Homo sapiens: one gene and its partners. The protein of the gene in region 4 binds, or shares a complex with, the protein of the main gene of each other region. Each region holds a gene or a part of one and is shown on either strand. Other genes may lie near its edges. A codon is read from its position in the direction of its gene.

Evidence for each region.
Region 1: the proteins of MIOS (region 4) and WDR59 are in contact, whole or in part, in a cryo-EM structure (PDB 7UHY), measured with the Homo sapiens proteins. Residues at the interface, in NP_001357005.1 of Homo sapiens: Asp705, Trp710, His711, Arg713, Ala714, Ile718, Ser721, Lys728, Pro729, Leu730, Ala731, Gln732, Val733, Phe734, Val735, Ser736, Cys737, Asn738, Phe739, Ile744, Lys780, Pro781, Leu782, Pro783, Leu787, Cys788, Leu789, Gly793, Pro795, Gln819; in NP_085058.3 of Homo sapiens: Tyr871 (codon at 1,618), Arg876 (codon at 1,603), Glu877 (codon at 1,600), Arg879 (codon at 1,594), Ala880 (codon at 1,591), Glu881 (codon at 1,588), Leu883 (codon at 1,582), Lys884 (codon at 1,579), Pro889 (codon at 1,564), Pro890 (codon at 1,561), His893 (codon at 1,552), Lys894 (codon at 1,549), Gly895 (codon at 1,546), Ile896 (codon at 1,543), Glu897, Phe898, Gly899, Val900, Tyr901, Arg906, Glu908, Val909, Arg910, Thr912, Phe922, Gln923, Ala925, Ile926, Cys927, His928.
Region 2: the proteins of MIOS (region 4) and CASTOR1 are in contact, whole or in part, in a cryo-EM structure (PDB 9LVK), measured with the Homo sapiens proteins. Residues at the interface, in NP_001357005.1 of Homo sapiens: Ala83, Asn84, Val109, Pro110, Lys111, His112, Ala113, Arg114, Asp134, Lys135, His136, Arg137, Asn184; in NP_001032755.1 of Homo sapiens: Val94 (codon at 989), Ser116 (codon at 923), Thr117 (codon at 920), Tyr118 (codon at 917), Gln119 (codon at 914), Thr120 (codon at 911), Asp121 (codon at 908), Thr188 (codon at 416), Tyr236, Leu255, Thr256, Ser257, Ser258, Ala295, Tyr296.
Region 3: the proteins of MIOS (region 4) and SEH1L are in contact, whole or in part, in a cryo-EM structure (PDB 7UHY), measured with the Homo sapiens proteins. Residues at the interface, in NP_001357005.1 of Homo sapiens: Arg279, Arg316, Ser317, Phe353, Glu354, Arg355, Ile356, Ser357, Leu358, Ala359, Trp360, Pro362, Leu366, Met367, Trp368, Ala369, Cys370, Gly371, Arg372, Leu374, Tyr375, Glu376, Cys377, Thr378, Glu379, Glu380, Glu387, Asp389, Ile390, Ala391; in NP_112493.2 of Homo sapiens: Met1, Phe2, Val3, Ala4, Arg5, Ser6, Ile7, Ala9, His11, Lys12, Asp13, Leu14, Ile15, His16, Asp17, Val18, Phe20, Phe22, His23, Gly24, Arg25, Met27, Trp47, Ser173, Ser174, Ser175, Asn230, Leu231, Gly232, Arg233.

What each region holds. Positions count from the first base shown.
Region 1 is NC_000016.10:74,884,114-74,891,420, forward strand, and holds part of WDR59 (GATOR2 complex protein WDR59), read right to left. Parts: intron 5,703-7,307; coding exon 5,590-5,702; intron 4,207-5,589; coding exon 4,056-4,206; intron 3,643-4,055; coding exon 3,570-3,642; intron 2,284-3,569; coding exon 2,157-2,283; intron 1,683-2,156; coding exon 1,540-1,682; intron 1-1,539. UniProt on the Homo sapiens protein: As a component of the GATOR2 complex, functions as an activator of the amino acid-sensing branch of the mTORC1 signaling pathway. The GATOR2 complex indirectly activates mTORC1 through the inhibition of the GATOR1 subcomplex.
Region 2 is NC_000022.11:30,286,477-30,293,837, forward strand, and holds the start of CASTOR1 (cytosolic arginine sensor for mTORC1 subunit 1), read right to left. Parts: upstream 3,030-7,361; 5' UTR 3,022-3,029; coding exon 2,909-3,021; intron 2,301-2,908; coding exon 2,230-2,300; intron 1,085-2,229; coding exon 897-1,084; intron 812-896; coding exon 679-811; intron 473-678; coding exon 349-472; intron 1-348. Other genes in the region: TBC1D10A (TBC1 domain family member 10A), read right to left, coding at 5,899-6,375, 7,175-7,329. UniProt on the Homo sapiens protein: Functions as an intracellular arginine sensor within the amino acid-sensing branch of the TORC1 signaling pathway. As a homodimer or a heterodimer with CASTOR2, binds and inhibits the GATOR subcomplex GATOR2 and thereby mTORC1.
Region 3 is NC_000018.10:12,971,781-12,979,087, forward strand, and holds part of SEH1L (nucleoporin SEH1), read left to right. Parts: intron 1-3,952; exon of another isoform or gene 3,953-4,102; intron 4,103-6,971; coding exon 6,972-7,112; exon of another isoform or gene 7,113-7,113; intron 7,114-7,307. UniProt on the Homo sapiens protein: Component of the Nup107-160 subcomplex of the nuclear pore complex (NPC). The Nup107-160 subcomplex is required for the assembly of a functional NPC.
Region 4 is NC_000007.14:7,590,882-7,598,188, forward strand, and holds part of MIOS (GATOR2 complex protein MIOS), read left to right. Parts: intron 1-4,098; coding exon 4,099-4,251; intron 4,252-5,375; coding exon 5,376-5,580; intron 5,581-7,307. UniProt on the Homo sapiens protein: As a component of the GATOR2 complex, functions as an activator of the amino acid-sensing branch of the mTORC1 signaling pathway. The GATOR2 complex indirectly activates mTORC1 through the inhibition of the GATOR1 subcomplex.

The DNA of each region.
Region 1 (7,307 bases), on a different chromosome or scaffold from region 4:
AAATATATTTTAACCCATCCATCATCTCTCTCCAACTCTAGCGATGCCACCCTCAGACCGGGCTGTCTGCCTCTGACCGCTACAACGTCTCTGAACGGGCTTCCTATTTCTGATCTGCCCTCCTCCCATCCTTTCCTCGTAGGAAGGCCACAGTGACCCTCTTAAAACACAACCCAAAGCACACTGCTTACTTCTTATGCCCTTGGAAGCTTACCATTGGACTTGGATACAATTGAAATTCTTTTTGTTTTTTGAGACAGAGTCTCGCTCTGTCACCCAGGCTGGAGTGCAGTGGCGTGATCTTGGCTCACTGCCACCTCTGCCTCCTGGGTTCAAGCGATTCTCCTGCCTCAGCCTCCTGAGTAGCTGGGATTATAGGTGTGCACTAGCACGCCTGGCTAATTTCGTATTTTTAGTAGAGACGGGGTTTCACCATGTTGGCCAGGCTGGTCTCAAACCCCTGGCCTCAAGTGATCTGCCTGACTTGGCCTCCCAAAGTGCTGGGATTACAGGCGTAAGTCACCACGTCCGGCCAAATCCAAATTCTTTACCGCAACTTACAAGCCCCTGCCTGATATAACCCTAAGTTCTCTACACTCTAATTTGATATCACTCTTCTCCCCACTGTACTCCAACCACACCACGCCACCTTCCTTCGCTTGTTCACAACGACAGTCATTTCCCTGGGGCCTGTCCCTCAGTGTGGGATGCTCTTTTCACCACTCTGCACCGATGGCTCCACGGTTCCTTTAAACCTTCAGACCTCAGCTCCTTGGAGGCCTTCTCAACACACCTCAATTCCTCTTCTAAGATTCTCCCTCTCTGTTCTCCCTGCCCCCACATCGTTTCTGTTTGCTTGCGAATATTTATCACAATTTGAAATTACTTAATTTTCCCCCCTACTCAGCTGTAAGCTCCATGGGGGGAAGGAATGTGTGGGCACTGTGCCTAAGAGGAGTCGGACACACAGTGGAATAAATGAAGAAATATCCATCCCTCTCATCCGCGCTGGAGTACTGTATATCAACTACTTCTGTTGCAATAGAAACTGCATCCTGGGCATGCGCCATGGCTCACACCTGTAATCCCAGCACTTTGGGAGGCCGAGGCAGGCAGATCACCTGAGGTCAGGAGTTCGAGACCAGCCTGGCCAACGTGGTAAAACCCCATCTACTAAAAGCACAAAAATTAGCCAGGCATGGTGGCAGGCGCCTGTAGTCTCAGCTACTCGGGAGGCTTAGGGAGGAGAAGTTAGAACCCAGAAGGCAGAGGTTCAGTGAGCTGAGATCACGCCACTGCACTCCAGCCTGGGCAACAAGAGTGAGATTCCATCTCAAAAAAAAAAAAAAAAAAAAAAAAAAATTCATCCTGTTACGAAATGCAAGGGCTTTTCAGATGCTTGGAATAGACTCAAAATGCCTCAGAAATTTCTGCTTAGAAATGAGAAGCTGAAACTTCATTCCAAGTCTGAGGCTGTGGACATATTAAATTACAGGATCTTTCAGACAGTGAAAGGAAGAGAGAGAAATTCATACTCACCGATCCCTTTGTGAGGGTCAGGAGGACAGGAGACAAACTTCAACACTTCAGCTCGCTTCTCTCTCAGACCCCAACGGTAGAGGATTTCCCCATAGCATTTCTTAAAGTCATCAAATTGCTGGGTATTGGCGGGGTCCAGGAGCCTGGATAAAGTTAAAAAGATTTCCTGTCAGTTCCTTTAAGAAAAAACAAGCTTCATCCTAAATGGCACTTAATATACCCTTCTTAAAGCAACAGTCCTGGCCAGGCACGGTGGCTAACACCTGTCACTCCCAGCACTTTGGGAGGCTGAGGCGGGTGGATCACTTGAGGTCAGGAGTTTGAGACCAGCCTGGCCAACATGGTGAAACCCTGTCTGTACTAAAAATACAAAAAATTAGCCAGTCATGGTGGCGTGTGCCTGTAATCCCAGCTACTCAGGAGGCTGAGGCAGGAGAATCACTTGAGCCTGGGAAGCAGAGGTTGCAGAGAGCCGAGATCCCGCCACTGCACTCCAACCTAGTGACCGGGTAAGATTCTGTGTCCAAAAAAAAAAAAAGTAAGAGTTGTGATTGTGGAGAAACTGGAGTCCTGCCTGGAGTCCTGGCATTGCAGCTCTCACCTGGGAGGGTGGTTACCTTTTATTTTTATCATGCTGGTCGCGTTCTCGCTCACGGGGATCACTGTAGGTCAGACTCCCAAAGCGGAGCTCTTCTGGTGAGGATTCTCCCCAAGGGGAGGACAAGTGCTCTGCCTCTCTTCCCGCTGAAGAAAATCAAATGGGAAGGGAAGATGGCAATCAGAGAAGGCATGGAAAATATCTGAAGAGTCTCATAAGACAGCACGTGGCCAATGGATTTCCCAGAAGAAATGTTAAGCGAGGCTGAATATTCTGAGAAATATAACTAAATAGAACTCTCTCCTACCCTTGCCTTTTTGCGCAGGTATTTATTACTAAGAGAACTTGATCACTAAGTACACACACATGATGCTAACGCAAATGATGGGCTGGGCGTTGTGGCTCATGCCTGGAATCCCAGCACTTTTGGAGGCCCAGGCAGGCAGATCACCTGAGGTCAGAGGTTTGAGACCAGCCTGACGAACATAGTGAAATTATGTCTTTACTTAAAAAAATACAAAAATTAGCTGGGCGTACTGGTGCGTGCCTGCAATCCCAGCTACTCAGGAGGCTGAGGCAGGAGAATCGCTCGAACCTGGGAGGCAGAGGGGGCAGTGAGCCGAGATCATGCCATTGCACTCCAGCCTGGCGACAGAGCAAGAGTCCATCTCAAAAAACTAAAAAAAATAAATAAATAAAGCAAATGATGGCACAGAGATACAGTAGAACATTACATAGTCATTATTTACGAGGACTTTTTGAACAATATTTGCTCATGATATAATGAAAAATAGAACACAAAGTCACATATATCAAATGACCACACTCCTGCACACAAAGAATGGATGCAAATGTTCTAGAATGTTAATGGACGCTATTCCTAGGTGGGAGATCAATAATTACAATTTTCTTCTCTAATACTTTTTGCTTGCTTTTCTTCACTGGGCATGAGCTACTTTTGATATCAGGAAAATTAAGATCATTTTAAAAACCTTTTTTTTTTTAAATCCAGGAAACACAAATACACCTTACTCAGCAAACAGCTTTATGATCAACTGGAGTCAGGCCCAGCTGTATTTGTCTACACTGAAAGCATTCATGGGAAGCGGTAGGTGGCAGATGAACATGGAAAGAGCATGTGAAGGAGAAAGGATAAGGGTTAGGTTTTGGGGGTGAACAGTGGGAAGTCCCATTGTCAGTTTCTCAAGGTTAAGAGATGAAAAGCAACACAGCAAGGCACAAAGACCCCCAGAACGTGGTCTGTTCAACATGCAAAGTCAGGCCTCCAGCAAGAGTATCCCTATCACAGTAAATGTAAAGAGAAATAAGAAATAAGAAAAAATATGGAGACTAAGCATCAACTAAAGGTTACATATGCACAGCTCTGGGAGAACTAAAAATCCAGCGTGGGCTAAGTCATTTCCATACAAACCTATGTTCCAGCCGCCAGTGTTGAGCCCTGGGTCTGACATACTGGAGCAGGAACCAGAAGAGGTAAAGCTAGGCTACAGAAGGGAAGAGAAGAACCAACAGGACTAGCATGAGAATACCATTCCCCATGACAGTTCACATTAAGAAAACAGCAGGCCAAGCACGGTGGCTCATGCCTGTAATCCTAGCAGTTTGGGAGGCCAAGGAAGGTGGAACACCTGAGGTCAGGGGTTCGAGACCAGCCTGGCCAACATGGTGAAACCTCATCTCTACTAAAACCACAAAAATATACCAAGAGTGGTGGTGCATGCCTGTAATCCCAGCTATTCAGGAGGCTGAGGCACGAGAATTGCTTGAACCCAGGAGGCGGAGGTTGCAGTGAGCTGAGATCATGCCATTGCACTCCAGCCTGGGCAACAAAGTAAAACTCCGTCTCAAAAAAAAAAAAAAAAAAAAATCAGACAAAACCAGAAAAGGACAAACTTACATATCGACTATGGGACACCACAAGATTAGAAGAACGGTTAGGAAAAGGCCCAAAGGGGTTTGGTAGCCCCTGAGGCCGAGACTGGGCTTCAAACACGCTACAGAGCATCGCCAGTGTCTGAACATCCCGGAGCCGGCAATAGTGAGCCAACCTGAGGAAAAGATAAGAGGAAAGAAAACAAGTCAGGAGGAGGGATTGAGGAGGAAAGCGGTCACAGTCATGGCGTGTTACTGCCACAGGGGTGGGAAGGGAGGAGTCTTGATTCTGCCTCAAAAACCCATCAGGAAATGGGGCTTTCTACAGATCCGGCAGTTTGACCTACTTTGAGTTTGCCTAAACTTGTTTTGGAATATAAGGCATCCACGTACTACAAATGATCTACAGAACGCATCTCAAAGCCTCTGGCTAACTTTCAGGCATGGGCTTAAACATGAATGTGGCTTCTCCAAGAACTAAGTGGACTAACCTGACATCTGAGCGAGCCAATACATGCTCTGTCTTCCCAGCTCCAAGGAAGAATCACACTGCTTTTGGGGGATTCCCACACATGTCATTTATATAACCTAAAGCTACATGAAGGAGCTCAGAGGACACTGGACCGCCACAGCATGCTAGCAGGCAATCGACTCTGGAGGTGCAGTTATGAAGATGAGCTATTAGGTAAGAACAACAAGGAGTGTTTCTGTCCTTTAGGTACTCATATCCCCTTTGTCCTTTCAGGAAGATTATGCTAGAATGTGAGTAAGGAATCAGAGGGGCTTTGCCTTTAAGAATGAATAATATTAATGTCCTCCTATCACTCAATGTCTAATATTTGTGTTTTCACACTCACTATCTTATTTGAGTCTTACACGAAATAAGTAGAGTAAACCTTATCATCCCTGTGTTAGTGACAAGGAAACGGAAGCACGAACACGTGTCCCAGGGGTGGCCTTAATGCATAAATTAAGCAAACTTCAACTTGAAGTCAGGAGCGTTTCTCTCCCCAGGCCCTGGGCCTCCAAGTTATGGAGATTCAAGTGGTTTTACTTGGTGTTAAATTATTTTGTATAGTATACCCTAGTTTTCCATATGTCAGTGCAATAAACTGAACGCAAAGGCAATGTTTTCTCAAATTGCCTAACAGGGTGAAAGCGTCGTGGTCTTTGGCAAACATGAACACCAACATGCAATTCTCTAATCCATTCTCAAGGGTGAGACCCTAGAGCTTTCAAGAAGAAACTTACCATCTCATGAGCTCAAACTCCTGTATTCAGACTGATGTGATTTATGGACTAAAGCATGAATCTCTAAAGGATACATGAGTCTCAGGGGTCTCAAATCCTTGTTATAAATGACAAGTAATGTATGGTTCTGTCTGCTATAAGAAGTTTGTTCTGCACAGAAATTATTTCAGCACTGAAAGGAAAGATCCTACTCCTTCCTTTCATTCCTCGGGCCTCTGCACCTTTCTCTTAGGTGGTGACATTTCAAGTGTTTACAGACCAAAAATGGACATCACTCATTTTTCTCATTTTTAGCTCTCAAAACCTACAGGGACTCCAGCAGCTGCCGCCCAAATGGATGTCGAGCCCAGGGTGTTTCCAAATCTGGGTCAGATTTCGGACCAAGGCAAAGATCTGTAGCTACCGTAGCCAGCGACCAAACCTGGACAGATCAAAGAGAAATACAAACTCAAACTGGCAAGGACAAGAACCGAAACCATGAAGCAATCCCACCTGTCTTCCATATAAAACCTGATGCCTTGCTACATTGGGGGCAGCAAAAGCTGGATCCTTATTGAAATGCATAAGTTTAGGCCCCACTTAGACCTACTGAATCAGCGTTTACACTTTAACCAACTCTTTAGGGGAGTTATGTGCACTCTAAAGTTTGAGAAACACTAGGCTTAAAAATTTTTCATTAAGCAAACATCAGAGAAATGACACAGTGTAATAATTTCAGTGGGTCATCTACTTAACCACTAACTCATATGACTTTTTATTTTATTTTACTTTTTTGAGACAGAGTCTCGCTCTGTCGCCCAGGCTGGAGTGCCGTGGCACAATCACAGCTCACTGCCACCTCTGCCTCCTGGGTTCAAGCCATCCTCCTGCCTCAGCCTCCCGAGTATCTAGGATCACAGGCATGTGCCACCACACCTGGCTAATTTTTGTATTTTCAGTAGAGATGGGGTTTTGCCATGTTGGCCAGGCTGGTCTGGAACTCCTGGACTCAAGTGATCCACCTGCCTCAGCCCCAAAAAGTGCTGGGATTACAGGTGTGAGCCACTGCACCCGGCCTCACATGACTTTTTAAAATGCTGTTTCATCAGTAAGTTGGGTTGGCAGGGAGGAAAAAAAAGGCAGTCTATAACACATTTAAGATCTGTCCCTCTTTTCCTAAATAATGAAAGACTTTGTTGCCTTCATTATAAAAGTTTCAGTATCCTCTCTGAAGCTAAAAAGTAACAATAATAACAATAGGCCAAGACAAAATGGATTTGGCTTTCTTTTTGTTGACACCAAATCTGAGGAATACCTCCCCGACTTGAAATCCCATGGGGCCTGGAGCCATTGAGCAGAAACCAATAGCCTCTAAGTGTCTATTAAGTCCAAGGCACAGGCTAAACCCATCATGTCATAAGCAAAGTTCCCACCCCCTCAATACCTTTAAAAATCAAATACGGCGGGCCCTGTGGCTCACGCCTGTAATCTCAGCACTTTGGGAGGCTGAGGTGGGCGAATCACCAGGTCAGGAGTACGAGACCAGCCTGGCCAATATGGTGAAACCCTGTCTCTACTAAAGATACAAAAATTAGCTGGGCATGGTGGCACACGCCTGTAGTCCCAGCTACTTGGGAGGCTGAGGCAGAAGAATCTCTTGAACCTGGGAGGCAGAGGTTGCAGTGAGCCGAGATCACGCCCTGCACTCCAGCCTGGGCGACAGAGCGAGACTCTGTCTCAAAAAAAAAAAAAAAAAAAAATCAAATACTATTTTCTGGAAAACCTTTCTCAGTAGCAGCACAGCATTGTATGCCCATTAACTGGAAAACATACTAGACTCTGAGATGCTCAAAAGAAAGAAGATATGGACTTTGAATCAAGGAGTTTACAATCTAAGGAGAAAGAATAAGCAAACAAAGATACTGAGAAACAGGTCGAGAAGCATTAGGCATGCAAAATCAATTAAATCACGTGGCACCAACATACTTGAAAAATATACAGAAGGTATTGTCGAAAAGGAGAAACTTGAAGTTCACATTCATCTCTA
Region 2 (7,361 bases), on a different chromosome or scaffold from region 4:
GCCTGGGCAGGCTCTGCCATATCTGCTACCCGCCCAAGGGTCCAGCCCTCTGGAAGGTGTGGGTGGGGATGGGGGAGGACAATGAACCCAGCCTGTGCCAAAAACAAAGGATTCCACGGTGAGAGGGCCAGACCAGGGCATGGCTCAGACGACCCCACTGGAAAGGGATCCAGCTTTGGGGCAAGAACCTTCCCCGAACATCAGTGAAGCACAAGTGAGCATCATGGGCTGCCAGGAACCCCAAGAGAGGACAAGCAAGAGGTGCAAAACTGATAGATGGGCGGAAAGTGGTGGGACAGAGTGTAGGGAACAGTGCTGTGAGGACAAAGACGAAGTTCCAAGGTCCACCTGTGCGAGTAGAAGAGGACATCTATGAGGGTGGTGGCGATGGCTGGAAGCGTCTCAGGGTCCAGTGTGAGGACACAGAAGCGGTTCTGTGGGCTCTGGATGGGATGCACCGTGGGGCTGGGCCCTGCTGGAGGACAGCAGCAGGTGAAAAGGTGTCCGTGGGCTGGGGCGCCCCCTGGTGGCTAGTCAGGGAGAGGCGTGGGCCAGGGGCAGGTCTTGCTATCCAGGAACTGGCCGGGGTCCTCCTGCCCCACTGGGGCCCAAAAGGGAAGGGACCCAGTGGGAAGAGGAGGCCCTGCCCAAGTCCAAGTGTCAGGGGGCGGCCCTCACCATGCTGAGTGCGGGGAAAGCCATTGCTGGAATCATCCCTCGTCACAGGCACAGGCTCTCCGCCCACCTCGCGGTAAATGTCGAACTCCTGGGCCAGCGTGTGGATCACCACGGACAGGTCCTGCTCCCGCACCTGGGCCACAGCAGATGGCACATCACATGGGCTCCCAGGTACCTATATCCACCCTGCTCTGCATCAGCACCAGCAGGAAACTCACCAGGATGAAGTCCGTCTGGTAAGTGGACAGCATCAGCACAGACACGTGGTGCTCGGCCAGTGGCGCGATGACCGAACGGGCGATCTTGGTGACCCCAGCAGCCTGCACTGCCGCACCGCTGTGAGACGACACGTTCAGCACCAGCCATGTGGCCTCAGCTACTTGCAGGAACTCAGATGGGGGCAGCTCTGTGGGCAGGGGACATGTCAGGTCAGGGTCTACAAGGCTGGCCCCTGCCCCTCTCTGAGCCTCAGTTTCCCTTTCTGTGCCTTGGAGGGCTCCATCAAGGTAAGGGCAGGTCTGGAGGCTGGGGCTCCTGAAGTCCCTATGTGTGCAAAGACTGAGAAAGGCTTCAAGTGCTGGCCTGGTGGCATTGAAACTTCCCACTTAAGATCAGAGGTCCAGATTCAGACAGACCTGGGTTCAAATCCCAGCTTTGTTAATTTGTCTTATGACCTGGGGTGGGTGATTTGAGTCTCAGTTTCCTCATCTGTAAAATGGGACGACAATATCTACCTCACTACGGTGTCTTCTGTGGGTTAGCAGAAGCTTTGTACCACATGGCACCACCAGGGGGCATTCGCAGATCAGGTTGGCTGGGGGATTGCCTTCCCCTTTTGCAGACCCAGACTTCTGAAGTAAAAACAGGGAAACTAAGGCCTGCAGTGGAGCATGGGGACAGGCTAAGCTCCAGCTAGCTGGCCTGAGACTCCAAGCCTGTGAGGATGGGCAGGGCCAGCAGCAGGAGGAGGAGCTAGGCGTCAGCTCCAGGCCCCAGGGAGGGCCCAGGCTGGCGTCCAGTCCTGAGCTGGGGCCAGGGCCTGGGTGGCTGCTATTCACCCCAGCACAGCCAGGAGGCCTCCAGGACCCTCCCCTGAGATGGCTGCCTGCTCCTGCATTCCTTCCCTCAGACTCCTGGAGTTTCCAGACCAGCAGGGGAGGAGGTGACCCAAACCAGAGAGTAAGACCAGGAGGAAATAATACCCAGGGATTTCTAACAGCAGCACTTGACTGGAATCATAACAGAGGCCCTTCTGCAGGCCTAAGACTGCTGAGTGCCCCTCAGCGGTTTTAAGTTTATAAAGGCCTCATGGGACCCTATGTATCAGAACCATAACTATACCCATTTTACATAAGAGAAAACAGCTCAGAGAGGGAAAGTGATTTGCTCAAGGGCACACAGCCAGGGAGTGGTGGAGTAGGATTCGAACCCCGACCCATCTGCTTTTAAGGCTTAAGCTCTTGGGACGGATCCCAGCAACTGGTGAGAACCCTACAGAAGGGGAGCACGACAAGCCCCTCCCGTACTCCCGTTCCCCAGACCAACCCCCACCTTTAAAGCCCTCCTCGTCCACCATAAGCGTGTAATCCTCAGGGGTCTCCGTCAGGCTGAAGAACTTGCACCTGGTTGGGGGTGGGGAGCATCTTCAGCTTGGTGTGGAGAACTAGGGGTCGGGAGTGGATTTCTCTCCATCTGCCCCGAGACACCCCCGCGACCCTGGGCCGGGCGCCTTCTTGCCCTCTCGGCCTTTAATTTCCAGGCCAATGGGATGTTAGCCCCATCTCGGGGGTTGGGGGCTACTTTCCGGCCTCCCGACCTCTCCAGGAACCCTCCACCCCTCCACTCCTGGAGGGAGGAGAGGTTCACACCCGCGGCGACAGCCCCAGGGGCGTCGGACCTTGGACCCCCTAGTCCAGCCCCTCTGACATGAAGGGAGGCGTCCTGGAAGGAGCTCCCCGCAGTGACCAGGTAGGAATGCCCCCATTTGACACTACTGAGTTAAGCATTGCCCATCCCAGGCTGTTTGCGCTTTGCCCCTGGGAGGGGGCCTCACGGGGCCGGATAGGCGGCGGTCCCCCAGGCCGGATGGCGGCCGGACGGGGAGAGTCCTCCCCACCCGCTCCCGCCCGCCTGCCTGCCTGCCTTACGGCGATCCTAATCCTCCGACCCTGGCCCGGAGCGAGAGCAGAGCCCCCAGCCCCTATCTGCGCTCCCGAACCCGGGCGCGCACCGGCTGCGGCGGGGCAGGAAGAGCAGCTTGATGAGCGGGTGGGTGTAGAGCCAGAGACCGGGACGGGCGACGCTCAGCACCCGCACCCGGTGTTCTAGGATGTGCAGCTCCATCGCGGCTCGCGCGGACCCGACCCCGCCGCCAACTAGACCCAGGCCGCACGGGAGGCGGGGCGGCGGGGGTGGTGCCCGAGCCTTAAAGGAGCCGCTGCGCTGCCGCGTCCACGCCGCCCGCTGCGAGGCTGACCCGCCCAGCCAGGCGCGGCGTCCGGCTCCTTGACGGCCACGCCCCGCGGGAAGAGAAGCCTATTGGGTGGTCACGCCTCCTCCTAACGCCAGAACCTCATCCCGCTTTCCAGCCAGCCCACCGAGACCGCCCCGAACGGCTCCGCCTTTTTTAGTACTGGCTCGGGGATAGACCCCACCCCGTCTGACTCCTCCAGGCCCCGCCCCTGACGCGCCCCCTCCCTGGGCTCCGCCCTTTCCGCGGAAAGCCAGCTGCGCAGCCGGTGGGAGCATCCCGGAGGGGACGTTTCTGTCCTTCTGGCACACACGTGGGTTTCATGATTGAAGTCCTTGAGACAGAAGGGACACGAAACAAACTGGAGCTCGGCTAGGACCAGAACGCTGCCCCCAAATCCCCGGAGCAATGAGAGGCACAGGTCTGCTGTGCAGCGCTGTCCCCCGGGCGCCTTTCGCTCTCCTGCCTCTCATGGCTGCAGGGGGCAGGGCCGCCAACACAGGATTGCGATTGATACCTACCCTTCCCCGCTTGCGAGGGGGCTGACAAATTGAAACCTGGCCTGGTAGCCCCACTTGTTCCTTTCATCCAACTTTCAAAATAGAAGGCTCCTCACCAGGGGCACACAGAGGTAGAATCCTAGCCACCTCTGCCTGAGCGACATACTTTGGGTTAGGGGGCTGCAGGTGGCCAAGGCCTAAGGCTTGAGGTCCCTCGATACCAACAAAACCCGGAAGTGCTTGAGCCAGTAATGCCCAGTGCTCAGACTTTGGTGGGGGAGGCCCTTGCAGCTGAGGTTCAGTGAGTACTCAGACCTCAAGCCTGAAACTTGAGCCCCAAAGCCTGCAGCCCTTAGCTAGCCTGTGCACATCTAAACTTGCTTCAGGTTCAAGGAGGCCCCCGGCACTGGCAGACACCCCAGATCTTATCAGGCCTTCACAGGTCTAAGACCCCCCCAAGGCTAAGCAGGCATCAGCATGTCCATGTTGGCTCCATGCAGGGCTGAGAATGCTCCAGGGGACCCTTGCCTGGCCTGAGCACCCTGAGGCCTCAGATGTGAGGCTTTGAACCAAGTAGACTAAAGCAGGCCTCAGGCCTGATTGGGACCCAGCAGGCCTAAGCAGGCCCTCTGCCTGCTCTGGAGCCCCCACCATAGGCAGATGGAAGCCAAGCTAAGCCTCCTCCCTGGACTCTCGGGCTTGACACATTCCTGTGAAACACTATGTAGCCACCACATCCTGGCCTATCCCCTGGAGGACTAGGGGAAGGAGGAGCTTCTCAAAGGCTGAGCCCATCTCATCAATGGCAGGTGCAGACAGAGTGGGAAACCATGGGGCTGAGGGGAAGGAGGCAGGAAGTGGAGTGGCCTACCCTGATAGTCTCTTGAAACCCTTCACCTCCCTAGGCCTCAGTATCCCCAGCTGTACCAGGACAGGATGTTCCAGGCCCAGGCGAAGGCTGAAAGCTCCCAGGGAGGCTCTGCTCCTCCCTCTCCTGCCCCCTCCCGCTATGGCCTGGCCTGGCCCAGCTTGGTCATCTGCCAGGAATAGCGCTATTGTTTGACTGGAAAAGCTGCTTCCTCAGCAGAAGGGGGGCCTCTCCCAGGGACACCCTGTCCTTGCCCTCACCAGTCATCAGGTTGTGACCGCAGTGCCTGCCTGGGCCCTCAAGGGCAGAGTCAGGTCTCCTGGAGCCCTGGTCAGGAGAGGAAGCTGAGTGAGGGGCTCTTGGTGCAAATCCGGCTGAGGCTTTCCCATTCAGCTCCTGTTTCCTCGTCTGTTAAATGGGGCTAATGGAGCCTACTTGACCAGTCCAGCCTGGCACTTGGCAGTAAATCGAAGGCGGCATTTTATCAAAGAACCACAATTCGCCCCCCTCCCTGAGGGCCTGGGCTGAGCCTGTGAGGACATTCGTGGTGCTCCACTCCGGGCCCCGTCCCTGACCCCAACCCAGAATCAGCTCTCAGAAACTTACTGGAGCCTGAGGTAGCATCCAGGCCAGGACTTGAAGGAGGAAGACCCTGAAACCTCCTCCTTAGGAGTCCCTGCCCCCTTGGTGGGTGGGTGAGGACCAAGGCCTAGGGAGCACGCCCTGCTCTGCCCAGCACTGAGCTCCAGCCCTGGTGTCCCTCATCTGTGGCAGAAGGTAGACATAAGGCAGTGGGGATGGGGTGAGTGAAAATGGGGGTTAAGAATGGGGGCTGACCAGGGACTTGGCATGTCCTCTGGCAAAGGTACCTCTCAGAGAGGCTCTGGTGCTGGGCTGGGGCCCAGGAGAAGGGGCTCTGTAGGGCAAAGAGAAGAGATGCTGAGCACCAAGGTGACCAAGGTGGTACCCCCTTCCCAGCCCCTAGCTGTACACGAGCTCTCTATACAAGGCTGTTTATTTCTGTACAAAACCATGTTTCTATTTTACACAAAGAACACCCCACCCTTTCCCCTCACACCAGCACCCTAACCCTGGGGAGCATCCCCCAGGAGGAGGGGGCTGAAGGAGGCCCCACCCCCCAGGCCCTAGCTTCTGCCTGCCCTGGCTGGGCCAGCCTGAGTGCCACTGTAAAGAAAATAAATAAGGAGGCTCAGGCAGAATCTGTGTTGGACCAGGCAGAATCTGTGTTGGACCAGCCAGACTCCAGCCCAGCCCAGTGGCCAGGCAGCTTGGCCCTCAGAGGGTGGGCAGGATGTGGAATGTCAGTTCATGAACCGTGTAGTTATATGGAGACCCCGCCCTGGAGGCCTTAGCTGCCAGGGTTACAAGTAGGTGTCCTCACTCTCTTGGGACGTCAAGCTCTCCTGGGAGCGGTGGTGGGCTGAGACCTGGGGAGCCAAATCCTGAGGGGCTGAGTCCTTGGGGGCTGAGTCCTTCGGGGGCACATGCTGTGGGGGACATGCATCTCCTGCAGCGGCCACCACCATGGCTTGATTTGGGGCTGGGGGCTTCTCCAGCTGCCCTCTCCCCTTCATCTGTTTCCGCTGCTCCTTCTGGGCCTGCTTGGGTGGCTTGGGCTTGGCTTTGGAGCCAGGGAGGGGGGCATCTAGGGGCAGGCGGATGGATGGTGAAGGTTGTAGGGCAGGCCGGGGACCAGGTTCTGCATCCAAGATAGCCTTGGCACCATGCAGCCTGGGCGGGGAGCGGCACTGCAGCTCACCCCGGGTCTCCTGCCAGCGCCGCAGCTGAATGAGGTGTTCGCGCTCAATCTGGCGCTCTGTCACGGGCAACTCCACCACCTGCAGGGGCAGTGACACAGGCAAGTGGACACCAAGAAGAAGGACCTTCCCCTTCTGCCTCCCAGCCTGGGCCCCCAGTCTTCCTCAGCATCCCCCAGCCTTGGCCACTAAACACTGACCCCAGGAAGGATGAGGGTCTAGTCCCAAGCTGCAGTCACGAGCCCCACAGCTGAGTGCCAGGTGAGCTGGACACTTGAGACCCACCGCCTCAGAGGATAAAGCTGCCCACAGCTTCACGAGTCCACCTGCCTGACTATGGGGCTAAAGGGGTAAGACCCAGACAGACAAAAACCTGCTCTCTGCCAACCTGTCACCCACCGCTGCCCAGGGCAGCCTGGCTGCTTAGGCTCAAATTCCAGCTCCACCTGGGTGGGTGACTTTAAGGGGAGTTGCTTAGTGATTCTGCCTCTGTGAGCCTCCATTTCCTCATGTGTAAAAGCTGGTCACGCATGTTCCACCTAATTGCCCCTGAGAGACAAGTATCCATAAAGAAAGAACAAAGAGAAATAAGAGCCAAGGCTGCGAATGGGGTACCAGGGAGGAAGACGGGGCCGTGGGTCAACATTCTTCTTCATTCCCAAGCGGCTCGGATCCAGAAGGCCCTGCAGAGCCAAGCCTCTCTGTGCCCCATGCTCTTCACCAGACAGAAGGATGAGGTCCACCCACATGTTCTGTGTTGCCTAGCAATGGTCCTGGCATAGGATCCACCCTCAGGGGCTGAGGGTTAGCGGGACCCCCTTCAAAGGACCCCCACCTGTCTTCCTCCCTCCCCATGATAAGGGGCAGGCATGGGCTGTACCTCCTGGACCAGAAAGGCCTCCTGCATGATCTTGGGGCTGAGGCTCCGCAGTCGCTCGATGGTCTCGTACTGGCCCTGGCAGGCTTTGACCTTCTCAGGGGAGCCCAGCGCGTGCTTCAGCAGCACCAGCCCCACCCGGAAGATGATCTTGACCCCTGCATGGGGGATGGGCAGTAAGTACAAGGAA
Region 3 (7,307 bases), on a different chromosome or scaffold from region 4:
CTGGTTTAGGGGCTAGGAAGGTTCACCTAGAAGATGACCTATAGGGTGAGTAGAAGTTAGCCAGACAAAGAGGGCAGAAGCACTCCTGGTGGAGAAAACTGCATGTGGTAAGGCCGTGAGCAAGAGAGAGGGAGTATATTTATACTGTTGTTGGAACATGCTGGGCAAAAATGAGTGTGGAGAGAAATAGGCAAGACTTGTATCTATAAGAAGTAATGTCCATTGTTTCAGTTTTATCTTACAGGTGATGTGAATAGGGAATAATGGGATCAGATGGATCTTCTATAGGTGTGACAAGTGTTTTGGAGGGAAACATGGTGGATTCACGGCTAGGATGCTATGAAGACAGTCCAGGTGGGAGAGTACGTGGCTTTGGGATAGTAGTAGCAGTGGCATGGAGATAAGTGGACAACTTGAGAATAATTGAGAAGTGGTATCAATAGGATCTGGTGATTGATTGGATTTGAGAACTGAACTGAGGAAGAAGGGGGAAGGTGTTAAGATGATTTCCAAGGTTCTGGCTTAAGAGTTCAGTGTGTAATTTCAATGTGTGTAATTTCTTGAGATAAGGAACTCTGGGAACAAGGCAGATTTGGGTAGAGTGTGGCAGCATGTGAAGGTAAGTTAATTTTGGTCATGCCGAGATACAAGTGTCTGCAAAGCTTCTGAGAGCCAAAAGCAGTGTCTCAGAGGCACACTACTCAGTCTTACAGGAGAAGAGAGCACTTGTCAGGTGATCAGATGGGCTTCGCAGGTACTAGACAAAATTCTTGAGTCTAATAGTCAGATCTTAGGCAGGGCCAGCAGTAGAGAAGGAACTAGTGTTACTCCCGTGGGCTCTGCAATTCCAAATGTTACCATCTGGGTTACCAAGGGGATCTTACACCTTCTACCTTCCTAGATTGTTGGTGTCTGCAGAGAGGCTCAGTCTTCAACAGTGCTGTCCAGTAGAATGTGCTGCAGTGATGGGAAATGGTCTTAGAGATTTTCATGGAGTTTTAAGCTGTAAAAACTATGAGCCCTATTAATAGCACATTTTATAGAGGCTTCATGAAGTGTTGGGCTTGTTAAAGTAAATTTCAACCTGAGCTGAGCAGAATGAATATGTAGACATAAGCCCAAAAACGTAAAAGGTGTATCATTGGCCACGCGAGGTGACTTATGCCTGCCATCTCAGCACTTTGGGAGGCTGAGGTGGGTGGATCACTTGAGTCTAGGAATTCAAGACCAGCCTGGACAACATGGTGAAACCCTTTCGCTACAAAAAGTACAAAAATTAGCTGTGGGGATGATGGCGCATGCCTGTAGTTCCAGCTACTTGGGAGACTGAGGTGGGATGATCACCTGAGCCTGGGAGGTCGAGGCTGCGGTAAATCAAAATTGCACCACTTCACTCCAGCAGTGTCAAAAAAAGATTTTTTTCTAAAACATAGGAAAAGAAAATATTTCATAAGTAAGATTTGAGTAAAAAGATAAATAACTTGCAGTTAGTTCTGAAAGAAAATACAGGCAAATAGAAATTACCTATTTTTTTTTTTTTTGAGAGTCTCACTCTGTCACCCAAGCTGGAGTGCAGTGATGCAATCTCAGCTCACTGCAACCTCTACCTCCCGAGTTCAAGTGATTCTCCTGCCTTAGCCTCCTGAATAGCTGGGATTACAAGTGCGTGCCACCACGCCTGGCTAATTTTTGTATTTTTAGTAGAGACGGGGTTTCACCATGTTGGCCAGGCTTGTCTTGAACTCCTGACCTCAGGTGATCCACCCACCTCGGCCTCCCAAAGTGCTGGGATTACAGGTGTGAGCCACCACGGCCGGCCTAGAAATTACCTAAGTATTTCTAAATTACCTAAATAATCCAATGTTAAAAATAATCTGAGATTGCATTTGAGTCTAGTCTCTTAGCTAACAGAATAAATCTAGACTGGGGGATTCCCTGTATTATGTCATGTGACAAGGAGCCTGAGGGTGGAGCAGTTCTGGGGTTAGGTAGTGACTCAGTTGCTCAATGATGACATCAAGGACCTACCTAAATATTTTCCACTTTTTTCTTGCTGTCATGCTTAGTACACTGGTGATAGCTCCCTCTTATGATCACAAAAGAGCTGCACAATGTCAGGTTTTACATGCTAATACAAAGAAGGGTATTCTAGAAAAAAACACCTTTCCTAGAAGTATCTTAGCAGGCTTCTTATCAGGTGCTGGCGGCTGGAGTTTGGTCATCCAGCCATGCCTTAGCTGCAAGAGAGTGAGACAGCAAGTGTCTGGCATTTTCAGCATCAAAAACGAGGGGAAGTGGTGTTGGGGAAAGAGTGTCTGCAGGTGGGGGTGTGTGCTATTGACTTGGGAAGTAATCAAACCTATTAAGTTCAGCACTTTTTGGAGTTCTGTTGCTGGTTCTTTGAGGTAAGCATTGTTTGAAGGTTCTTATTTAGATTGAACGTGGAGGAGATGTGATAGTGGACTATGTAGTATCGTTATTAATACCTGTTTATCTTTTTCTCTCTTTTTTTTTCTTTGAGATGGAGTCTCACTCTGTTTCCAGGCTAGAGTGCAGTGGCGCAACCTTGGCTCGCTTCAACCTTTGCCTCCCGGGTTCAAGCGATTCTCCTGCCTCAGCCTCCCCGGTAGCTGGGACTACAGGCACCCGCCACCATGCCCAGCTAACTTTTGTATTTTTAGTAGAGATGGGGTTTCACCATTTTGGCCAGGATGGTCTCCATCTCTTGATCTTGTGATCCGCCCACCTCAGCCTTCCAAAGTGCTGGGATTACAGGTGTGAGCCACCACGCCCGGCCTGTTTATCTTTTTCTAAGTAGTATCACCATTTAGTAGACAGGAGACATTTGCCAAATTAACCAGTGTTGGATATATTTGTTTTTATTTGTGAGTGAAAATACTAAAACAGATCTAGGATTGATAGTGATAATAGAAGTGCCATGTGTTTATATAGGTTACCGGGCATTTTTATGTGTGTTATGAAGTTTGAATCCTACCAACCACCTTGTAAGTAGAGGAGACAGCTTTTATTAACACTGTTTTACAAATGAGAAAACTGAGACCAACAGAGTGAATGACTAGTCTAAGGTCCAGAGTCAGGACCAGAAACAAAGTCTTTTTTGTTCATTCTCTTTATTTACACTCTCATTGAGGATCTTATTTGGCTCCTTCTGATAGGAGAAGCTTTAGATAACCTTAATTATTTTTATTTTTATTTTATTTTTTTTTTTGAGATGAAGTTTCACTCTTGTTGCCCAGGTTGGAGTGCAATGGTGTGATCTCGGCTCACCGTAACCTCCGCCCCCTGGGTTCAAGAAGTTCTCCTGCCTCAGCCTCCCAAGTAGCTGGGATCACAGGCATGTGCCACCACACCCAGCTAATTTTGTAGTTTTAGTAGAGATGGGGTTTCTCCATGTTGGTCAGGCTGGTCTCGAACTGTCGACCTCAGGTGATCTGCCTGCTTCGGCCTCCCAAAGTGTTGGGATTACAGGCGTGAGCCACCGTGCCCAGCCACCTTAATTAATTACAATATATAGCTTGCCTCAGGTAAGAAAAAAAAAATCTCACTTTTTCAACATTTCATAAGCAGCATGGACTGTACTAAGAGCTGAAGGAGCTTACAGCGCCTAGGATATGGATGAGGATGGTCACCTGCTAGAGATGGCAGCACATACCTGCCTGGTAGGGTGAGAAGTTTCAGCTGATGATGTTTGAGCATGAATCTTGAAAGACAGAGGGTGTTCTGCAAGCAGAGAGGAGGCAGGAGCAAAGACAAGGGCGTGGGGTCGAGGCGGTGGGTGGGGAGGCTAATGCAGGAGAGAGACAGGGGAGGGGCAGGCCAACAGGCCAGGCAGATTTTGGAGAGTGGTGCTTGCCAAGTCTGATCTCTATCCTGGCAGCATTTGGACTTTTGCAGGGTCCAGTAGAGTCACAAGGTTGTATTTACCTTTTAGGGAGATGACTTTGGCAGCTGTGTGGACTGGGAGCAGGAACTCAGGGATGAATGCAGTAGCCCACTATGATGTGGAATGAGGACATGCACTGTGGCGTGGGATGAAGAGGGACCGGGGAGACTTGTCTAGGAGGCACCAGCTGTAGGTCACGTGAGTCTTGGTTTCTGACCTAGCTGATGGTAGTGCCACTTGTTGAGATGGGGACTGAGCAAAGAGGAGTGAATGTGGTAAGCACAATTTATTTCAGACATATGTTTGAGGTGCGTTTGGAACATCCAGGTGGGGATGTGTAAAGGCAGATGGATAGAATAGCTGAGATTAGTTGTCTATTGCTGCATGACAGCATTATCACTCAGTGGCTGAAACAGTACAGATTCGGTATTTCAATGTCTGTGGGTCAAGAGTCAGGCCAGACTGGGAAAGACTCCACTTCGGAGCTCACCTGGTTGTTGGCAGCACTCGTGTTCCTGCCACGAGACCCTCCCTTGTGTCCTCACAGCATGGCAGCTGCTTCTGCAAGGCCTGAAAGCAGGAGAGTCTTCTCATGAGGCAGGCGTCACAGGCTTGTGTGTTGTAGTCACACGGGTGTTGTCCCACCACCTTGCCATGTTCCGTCCCCTGGGTAGAAAACAAGCCACGGGCCCCACTCACACTCATGGGGAGGAGCCTCCACAAGGGCGGGACCACCAGGAGGTGCGGGTCATGGGGGCACTTAGAATCTCTCTGCCACAGTACGGGTGTTCCTCCCACTTTACGGAGAACTTGCTGAAGGTCGTTACAGCCTGGATTCAAACACGTTCTGGCTGCAGCATGTGTGCTCTTAGCTCCACCTGTCCTATTTCTGGCCTTTGGTAGAAGGCCAGAATCTATCCCCTGAATTGCAGGGGATAGATTTAGGAATTATTGGTTTATAGGTACTGAAACCATGGGTGTAGAAACCATGCATATTCTGGCCGGGCGCAGTGGCTCACGCCTGAATCCCAGCACTTTGGGAGGCCGAGGTGGGCAGATCACGAGGTCAGAAGATCGAGACCATCCTGGCTAACATGGTGAAACCCTGTCTCTACTAAAAAATACAAAAAAAACAAAAAACATTGGCCGGGCGTGGTGGCAGGCCCCTGTAGTCCCAGCTACTCCGGAGGCTGAGGCAGGAGAATGGCATGAACCTGGGAGGCGGAGCTTGCAGTGAGCCGAGATCACACCACTGCACTCCAGCCTGGGCGACAGAGCCAGACTCTGTCTCAAAAAAAAAAAAAAAGCATATTCTGATTGTGTAGGCCCCAGGAGGGGGCTGAGATTCTGGATTTCCCAGAAGCTCCCAGGCTGCTGCAGACCACACAGTAGAAGCAAGGATGTGGATGAGATTGCTTAGGGTGATTGGATGGGTGAGAAAGATCAAGGAGAGAACCTTGAGGTGTGTACCAGCTTGGTAGAGATTTTAGGAAGAATGTTGGGATGAAAAGAAGGTCAAGTGAAGAATGCTGTAGAAAGGTGGGATGGGGAGATGTCTCCACCCAGTCTCCTACATGCAGGGGGTTAGGTGCTGCCGTTCTGTCCAGGATATTCAATCTTAGAAGAACCTAGTAGAAAACTCTGATCTACCACTGCCTTCATTATCCTCTTATTCTGTATTTATAGATAAAGAAATAGAATTGCAAGGATGAAATAGCCTTTGCATAGTTTCCTTTTATTATCACTTAACTCAATTCCTGCTGGGCGCAGTGGCTCACACCTGTAATCCTAGCACTTTGGGAGGCAGAGGCGGGTGGATCACCTGAGGTCAGGAGTTCAAGACCAGCCTGACCAACATGGTGAAACCCTGTCTCTACTAAAAATACAAAATTAGCCAGGCGTAGTGGTGCACGCTTGTAATCCCAGCTACTCAGGAGGCTGAAGCACGAGAATCACTTGAACTCAGGAGGCGGAGGTTTCAGTGAGCCAAGATTGCGCCATTGCACTCCAGCACAAGAGTGAAACTGTCTCAAAAAAACCTCAATTCCTGTTACCAGCTTTACTTTTTTATTTACATTCAAATACTTAGGCAATGTGTTACTCTTTTCCTAAGAAAGATGTTAGTGGCTAATAAATCAAGCCCTTTTTTATTTTTTATTTTTGCAGTTGAGTCTTACTGTGTTGCCCAGGCTGGAGTGCAGTGGCGTAATCTCAGCTCACTGCAACCTCCGCCTCCTGGGCTCAAGCCATCCTCCCACCTCAGCCTCCTGAGTAGCTGGGACAATGGGTGTGCACCACCATGCCCAGCTATTTCTGTATTTTTTGTAAAGATGGGGTCTTGCTGTGTTGCGCAGGCTGGTCTTGAACTACTGGGTTCAAGCAATTCTCCCACCTCAGCCTCTCAAAATGCTGGGATTACAGGTGTGAGCCACTGTGGCCAGCCAAGACCTTATTGTAATTAAATTTTTATTAAAGCGTTTCGAGCTAAATGTACATTATTAAAGGAGGAAACGTGGGAGGTTGTATTAATTTCCTAGGGCTGCCATAACAAATTACCACAAATCAGGTGGCTTAACACAGAAATGTATTCACTCACAGTTCTGGAGGTCGGAAGTCTGAAATCAAGGTGTTGGGGCTGTGCTTCCTCTAGAATCCTTCCTGGTCTAGTCCAGCTCCTGCTGGCTCCGGGAGTTCTTTGGCTTGTGGCAGCATAACTCCAATCTCTGCCTCTGTGTTCACATGGCTGCCTCCTCTCTGTCTCTGCGTTTCTTCTCTTCTTTTTAAAGAATACTTACTGCACGTTGGATTTAGGACCCACCCTAAATCTCGGATGTCATTCTGAGGTCCTTAATTACATTTTCAAAGACGCTATTTTTGAATAAGGTCACATTCACAGGGTCTGGGGGTCAGGACTTGGACATATTCTTTTGGGGGCTGCTGTTGAGCCCACTACAGAGGTGAGCACTACATGATTGTGAGCAGTGTGAAAAAAAGGTGAGATGCAGTGATGTGTGGATTTTTGCACATTTTATTTCTAAAATGTTAATGTCAATTGTTTTTCCATTAGGAAATATGCAAAAGCTGAAACTCTTATGACAGTCACTGATCCTGTTCATGATATTGCATTCGCTCCAAATTTGGGAAGATCTTTCCATATTCTAGCAATAGCGACCAAAGATGTGAGAATTTTTACATTAAAGCCTGTGAGGTGAGTTTTAGAAGCATTTATGAATTTGAAAATACTCTTGCCTTCTGATTACCTTTGTTTGTGGAGGAGAGAGTAGAGGTAACTATGATTTGGTTTATATTTCTGCTCTGGAAGTTTTACTTAAAAATGTAAACTTTGAAATGTTTTTTAAAAATGGTCTTTTACAGTTACTTTTTTTTCTTTCTTTTTTTTTTT
Region 4 (7,307 bases):
TTTACTTCATGCTTCACAAATGTCACAACAGTGTGATTTCATTTACACATCCATTCCTTTGTCCTATTGTCATATATTTTACTTTTACAGATATTATATACTCCAACTTACAGTGTTTTTTTAACAGTCATTTGTCTTTTATGTAAATTATGAAAAGAAAACATGGGCTTTTATATTTATTCACTTATTTACCATTCCTGGCATTCTTTTTCCCTTCTGTAAATCCTATAGCATTCCTTGTAATATAGGTGACAGATTCTCTCAAATTTTAACTGAAAATGTCTATTTCACTCTTATTTTTTCTTTCAACACTTTAAAGATGTAGTTTCACTGTCTTCTGGCCTCTGTTGTTTCTGATGAGAATCAGCTGTTCTTATGCTTGTCTCCCTGTCTGTGATGTTTCATTTTTTGTTGGGTTTTTTTTTTTTTTTTGAGACAGGGTCTCGCTCTCTCACCCAGGCTGGGGTGGATCTCAGCTCATTGCAGCCTCCAGGCTCAAGCAATCCTCCCACCTCAGCCTCCCAAGGAACTGGACCACAGGTTCACGCCACCACTCCTGGCTAATTTTTTGTATTTTTGACAGAAATGGGGTTTCACCATGTTGCCCAGGCTGGTCTCAAACTCCTGACCTCAAGTGATCTGCCCGCCCCGGCCTCCGAAAGTGTTAGGATTACAGGCATGAGCCACCACGCCCAGCCTAAATTCTGATTTTTAATGTTTAAGTAAATTTGTTTTCCTTGCAACCATCAATAAAATGTTTTCTATTATTTATATGTAGGATAATCTTTTTGGGTTTCTTCCAAGATTTTTCCTTTACCTTTGATTTTTCAGTAGTATGACCTTAATGTACCTGGTTGTGGTTCATTTTATCCTGTTTGTGGTTCACTGAGCTTCTTGGATCTGGAAGTCTGTTTTTCAGCAGATTTGGGAAGTACGGGGATATTATTTCTTTAAATATTTTTTTCTGCCTCAATCTTATTCGGTTTTTCTTCTAGGACTCTTATTACATATGTATTAAACCACTTCATAGTGTTCGTAGGTGCCTGAGGCTCTATTCTTCTTCCTTCCATGTTTTTTTTCCCACTATTCTTCAAATTGGTTAATTTTTTTTTTTTTTAAGACAGAGTCTTGCTGTGTCACGCAGGCTGGAGTGCAGTGGCACAATATTGGCTCACTGCAACCTCCACCTCCCAGGTTCAAGCATTCGAGTGATTCTCATGCCTCAGCCTCCCGAGTAGCTGGGATTACAGGCATGTGCCACCACACCTGGCTAATTTTTTGTATTTTTAGTAGGACATGGTTTCACTATGTTGGCCATGCTGATCTTAAATGCCTGTCCTCAAGTGATCTGCCCGCCTCGGCCTCCCAAAGTGCTGGGATTACAGGCGCAAGCCGCTGTGCCTGGCCCAGATTTGTTGATTCTGTTGACTTATTCCATCACCTCTGTCTGCTGTTAAACTTCCCAGGGAATTGTTCATTTCAGTTATTGTGCTTTTCAGTTACAGAATCTTAACTTTGTTACAGTTTACTTTAGCAGTCCCCAACCTTTTTGCCCCAGGGACTTTTTAGCACCAGGGGGTTGGTTTAGGGATGATTCCAGCACATTGTATTTATTGTGCACTTTATTTCTATTATTATTGCACTGTAATACATAATGAAATAATTCTACAACTCACCATAATGTAGAATCAGTGGGAGCTCTGAGGTTATTTTCCTGCAACTAGATGGTCCCATCTGGGGATGATGGGAGACATTGACAGATCATCAGGCATTAGATTCTCATAAGGAGTATGCAGCCTAGATCCCTCACATGTGCAGTTCACAGTAGGGTTCACTGTCCTATGAGAATCTAATGCCACCACTGATCTGACAGGAGGCAGAGCTCAGGCACTAATGTGAGGGATGGGGAGCAGCCGTAAATACAGATGAAGCTTTGCTTATTGCCCTGTCACTCACCTCCTGCTGTGTGACCCAGTTTGTACCAGGCTGTGGACCTGGGGGTATATTGGGGGTTGGAGCCCCCTGGTTTACATTTCTCGGTTCAGATTCCTTATCTCTTCACTAATCAAAACACTATTTTCCCAAGCCCTTCTGATTTGGTCAGACTCAATCTCTGAACTATTTTCATTACAGATCATGTTGTGGCTTGATTTTAGGCTTTATTGGAGAGGATCTAGAGAAGACTTACTGTATATGTATTGACCAAATTCTTACTTAGTTTATCCCCTTCTTGCCATATAAGGGGAAAGAATGAGATGTGAAAACATCTTATTTTTCTGTGAATTTTCTTTTTAAACCAGGGATTATATGCTACTTTGGTACTTAGTTCTGCCTACTTGGTCATAATTAGGGCTAGAGTAGACCTCTACTTTTTTAAGAAATGAAATTGTAAGCTATGTGTTTCACATGTTCTTTTAGCTAAATTTAACTCTGGTAATTAACACTGAATTTAATAGATGAAAGATATGTTGCTTCAGTTTTTGATTGGATGTCTAAAGATTATATTAGCTCTTACAGATTTTTGTTCTTTTTTTTTATAAGTAAGATATACGCCAGGTTCTCTCTGAAATTTCACTTTTCTATTGGCCCTCAAGTAGGACTGAGAAAACTAACCTTCAGATTGATGCCAAAGCATCATTGGAAGTAGAGACTTTCTCTCCTTTCTCCATTATGTAAAGTTAAGGAAGATATCCTGGACAGGGCTGAAAGTCTTCTAAGAAAACCTAAAGCGGCCGGGCACGGTGACTCATGCGTGTAATCCCAGCACTTTGGGAGGCCGAGGTGGGCAGATTACCTGAGGTCAGGAGTTCAAGACCAGCCTGGCCAACATGGTGAAACCCCATCTCTACTAAAAATACAAAAATTAGGTGGTGGCACACCCCTGTAATCCCAGCTACTCAAGCAGGAGAATTGCTTGAGCCCGGGAGGCAGAGGTTGCAGTGAGCCGAGATCGTGCCACTGCGCTCCAGCCTGGCCGACAGAGTGAGACTCTGTCTCCAAAAAAAAAAAAAAAAGAAAAAGAAAAGAAAAAAAGAAAACCTAAAGCAAGCATAGATGAAATGTGGAATGTCACAGCTGCCAGGGAAAATACAACTTTAGGAAAATTATTACTGGCAAGAACTTGAAGATCTTAATGAGAAGAACTCTAAAGTAAATTTAACTAAAACAAGGTGTTGCTTTTAACTGTGGCTACGGGCAAAAGAACTAAGAAGGTATTTGGTTTGGTTTTGCTTTTTCTTGTTCTGTTATTATTTTTAAGGCAAGAAATGTATGTTTTAATTGAAGGCAAGAGTAAGAATAGACAGGTTTAACTTACAGATAAGTAGATATATAAAAGCAGCATCTCAGTTCACCGTGCATTGCTAGATAGGAAGGACCAAGCTAACTGTTAGTTCAGATGTGACTGAGCAATTTTGGTGTGCATTTGGACTTTTTTTTTTTTTTAAATGGAGTCTCATTCTGTCACCCAGACTACAGTGCAACGGCACAATCTCAGCTCACTGCAACTTCCGCCTCCCGGTTCAGGCATCAACCTCCCAAGTAACTAGGATTATAGGCGCCTGCCACCACACCTGGCTAATTTTTGTATTTTTACTAGAGACAGGGTTTCACCATGTTGGCCAGGCTGGTCTCGAACTCCTGACGTCAAGTGATCCGCCTACCTCGGCCTTCCAAAGTGCTGAGATTACAGGCATGAGCCATCACGCCCAGCCTGTATTACATTTGGATTTGATAGTAAACAGAGTTTGTGAACCCAGAGGTTTTTAATTGCTGGGACAAAGGGTATTCGTATCACTGTTTACAACATTCAACCACGAAGTTCTATTTTCTTAAACTTAACTAAAAGGTAGAGAATTAGACTTCCCTGGGCAGGTATGATATATAAAGTACATATTTATGTCATTAGTGGAACCCAGCTTGAGATAAATTAATGGAGCTTCCATAAATTTTCTTTATTCTCATTAGGAGCCAGCTTTTGGCAAAAAAAAAAAAAAAGGCCTATTTCTTCTGTGTTACTCATACTTACATGCTACCCAGAAGTCTCTGGCCTAGCCAGGAGATTTTAAACAATTGAAATAATTCATGTTTTCGTTTTAGGGTTCACCTTTAGATGTTCTTAAAGATGAAAGGGTTCAGTACTGGATTGAGAATTATAGAAATTTATTAGATGCCTGGAGGTTTTGGCATAAACGAGCTGAATTTGATATTCACAGGAGTAAGTTGGATCCCAGTTCCAAGCCTTTAGCACAAGTAAGTACATTGTTTTGGAGAAAATCAAATTGTAACATGTTGATGTTCAATTTAATAAGTTACTATTAGCTCATTATTTTGCTTATATTGAGTTCCCATTGATGTCTTTGTCTTTTGTAGACTGAACTTTGTCCTTGATCTTCCTGTCCTTTGGTTCTGCTTCTTGCTAACAATCATCTCAGTGGCTTGAGCTTTAGTCGCAGATAGAACAAACCACAGCAGGCCTGAAGTTTTCCAGTGTATTTCCAGCCCTTTCAGATTCTAAACTATTACATTATCTTATAAATTCCACTTGTGTATTAAGTTTTTTAGCATTATTTATGTGCAGTAAGGCAGGATTTGGGTTTTTTAGACTTTAGCAGTATTACCTATATCTATATGTTTAATTACACATGGAAATTTTTTTTTAGCATTAGTTTAAAAAATGAGATTGTTGTCACATAAGGTATACCACATTAAATCACTGTGTCTTAGTTCAGATATTAAATATTATGTTATCCTCAATATGAGCACTGGATGGTGCTATTTTCTTATTTTAGGAACTTGAGAAAGTGCTTATGTTAAAACCAGAGTGTTGATAAAATAGCATTACATGGTAGTACATGTTACTAATCTATATGATAAGTGATTAAGAGCCTAGCAATTTACGGTAAAAACAAAATGAACAGCTTCTATTGCTATTATTCTAAAAATTTAACTATTTACCATTATAAGTTTGTTAACTCTCTTTGTCTTAGGAACAGCGTTTTCTTTATAAGAAAATTTTGTTCAGAAGATTATATCACTGAACTGTGGTTTAGAAGTCATATTGGGATATTTTGTAATGGCCCAGTGTGAATTCTGAAGTCATTGTTATTTCTAAAATGTTGGAGTCTAAAGTTTGAGTTCTTCCACCAATTTCAGTGGTATTAGTAAGAATATAATTAAAAAGGAAGTACCCCAAAAATGTAATTGCTAGGTATAAATTTTAAATGAAAGCTAGTCAACCTTAGCAGATCAATTTTGAAATATAAAATAAAGTTTTTTAAAAGTATTTAAAAATAATTTGTTAGGCGCACACTAAGTTATTTAGCATTCCATTATGGTTTGCATTACATTTATTTTTTCTTTCATTTGTTTTGTAGGTTTTTGTGAGTTGCAATTTCTGTGGCAAGTCAATCTCCTACAGCTGTTCAGCTGTGCCTCATCAGGGCAGAGGTTTTAGTCAGTATGGTGTGAGTGGCTCACCAACGAAATCTAAAGTCACAAGTTGTCCTGGCTGTCGAAAACCACTTCCTCGATGTGCGCTTTGTCTCATTAATATGGGAACACCAGTTTCTAGCTGTCCTGGTATGACATAATTTTACAAAATACTTTTATGAACTGAAATGATTCTTACATAATTGAGTTAATGTTGCAAATAAAATACAAACTAGCTAGAGTTATTATTTCTAAGAAAGGGCAGTTTACTAGCTTGAAGGCTTTTATGTTCCTATAATTTATGAACTATGAAAACTAAAAGCAAAATCTATATCTATTGATACTTCAGGTAATTTCACAAGTTCTGACCAATTTAAAGTTTGTGAGAAAAACTTAAATATGAAATAATCTTAATATATTACCATTTTCTTATCACTGTTTCCACTAAGAGGAGTTCGTTCAAATTTGATTATTTAAAAGTCAGTATACCCGCACCTATTAACAGATACTTTGTATTTCTAAGGATCTTTTGACATCATTAAAGCACTTTGACATTTCTTCCTTCATCTTCAAAACCTACCTATAAAATACATGAGAGAAGGGTCAGTTGCAGTGGCTCATGCCTGTAATCCCAGCTCTTTGAGAGGCCAGGGTGGAAGGATTACTTGAGCCTGGGAGTTTGAGACCAGCCTGAGCAAAATAGTGAGACCCCATCTCTATAAAAAATTTTTTTGGCCGGACATGGTGGCTCACGCCTGTAATCCCAACACTTTGGGTGGCCGAGGCTGGCAGATCACAAGGTCAGAAGATCAAGACCATCCTGGCAAACATCGTGAAACCTCGTCTCTACTAAAAATACAAAAAATTAGCCGGGCGTGGTGGCACACACCTGTAGTCCCAGCTGCTTGGGAGGCTGAGGCAGGAGAATTGCTTGAACCCGGGAGGCAGAGGTTGCAGTGAGCCAAGATCATGCCACTGCACTCCAGCCTGGGCGACAGAGCAAGACTCTGTCCTAAATTTAAAAAAAAAAAATGTTTTTAATTAAAAAATAATAATAAATAAGAAAATACATAGAGAAAGTATTAGCCTAGAAGTCAGGTCCCTTGACTTCTAGATTTTGATGCTGCTTCTGCTGTTTGTCAGTTACCTAGTAAATTTATATATATATATATATATATATATATATATATATATATATATATATATGAAGGCAATACGTAATGTTTTAAATGTACATTTTAGTTTTGATTTAAATTTTAATCAAGGATTTTTATTTTATACATTGCATACTGACCACTCTTTTATGTTACTCTGGTCCTAATAAACAGAAAATAACAATTTGGAATATATACATATACACACACACACAGTGTTCGTTTTTGTTTGTTTGTTTGTTTTGTTTTTTGAGACAGGATCTCACTCTGTCACCCAGGATAGAATGCAGTGGCATGATCTCGGCTCACGGCAACCTCTGCCTACTGCCTCCTGCCTCCTGGGCTCAGGTGATCCTCCCACCTCAGCCTCCCAAGTAGCTGGGACCATAGGGTTTCACCCTGTTGCCCTGGCTGGTCTTGAACTCCTGAACTCAAGCGATCCACCTGCCTCAGCTTCCCAAAGTGCTGGGATTACAGGCATGAGCCACCATGCCCAGCCTATATTTTTTAATGGTTAGAAATATTAAGATTATTTTTTATTCTTTATAGTAAACATATGGGAAAAAATTTTGAGAATAGTAGATAATTAAATATCTTATACCTGGTGGCTGGAATTATTCCAGCTCTTTACCTAACTTGAAAATGATACTGTGGCACAATTTTCAATTAAAATCATTTTGGGTATTTGGCACACAGGTGTAATGAATAAAGAACTGGTTAGAG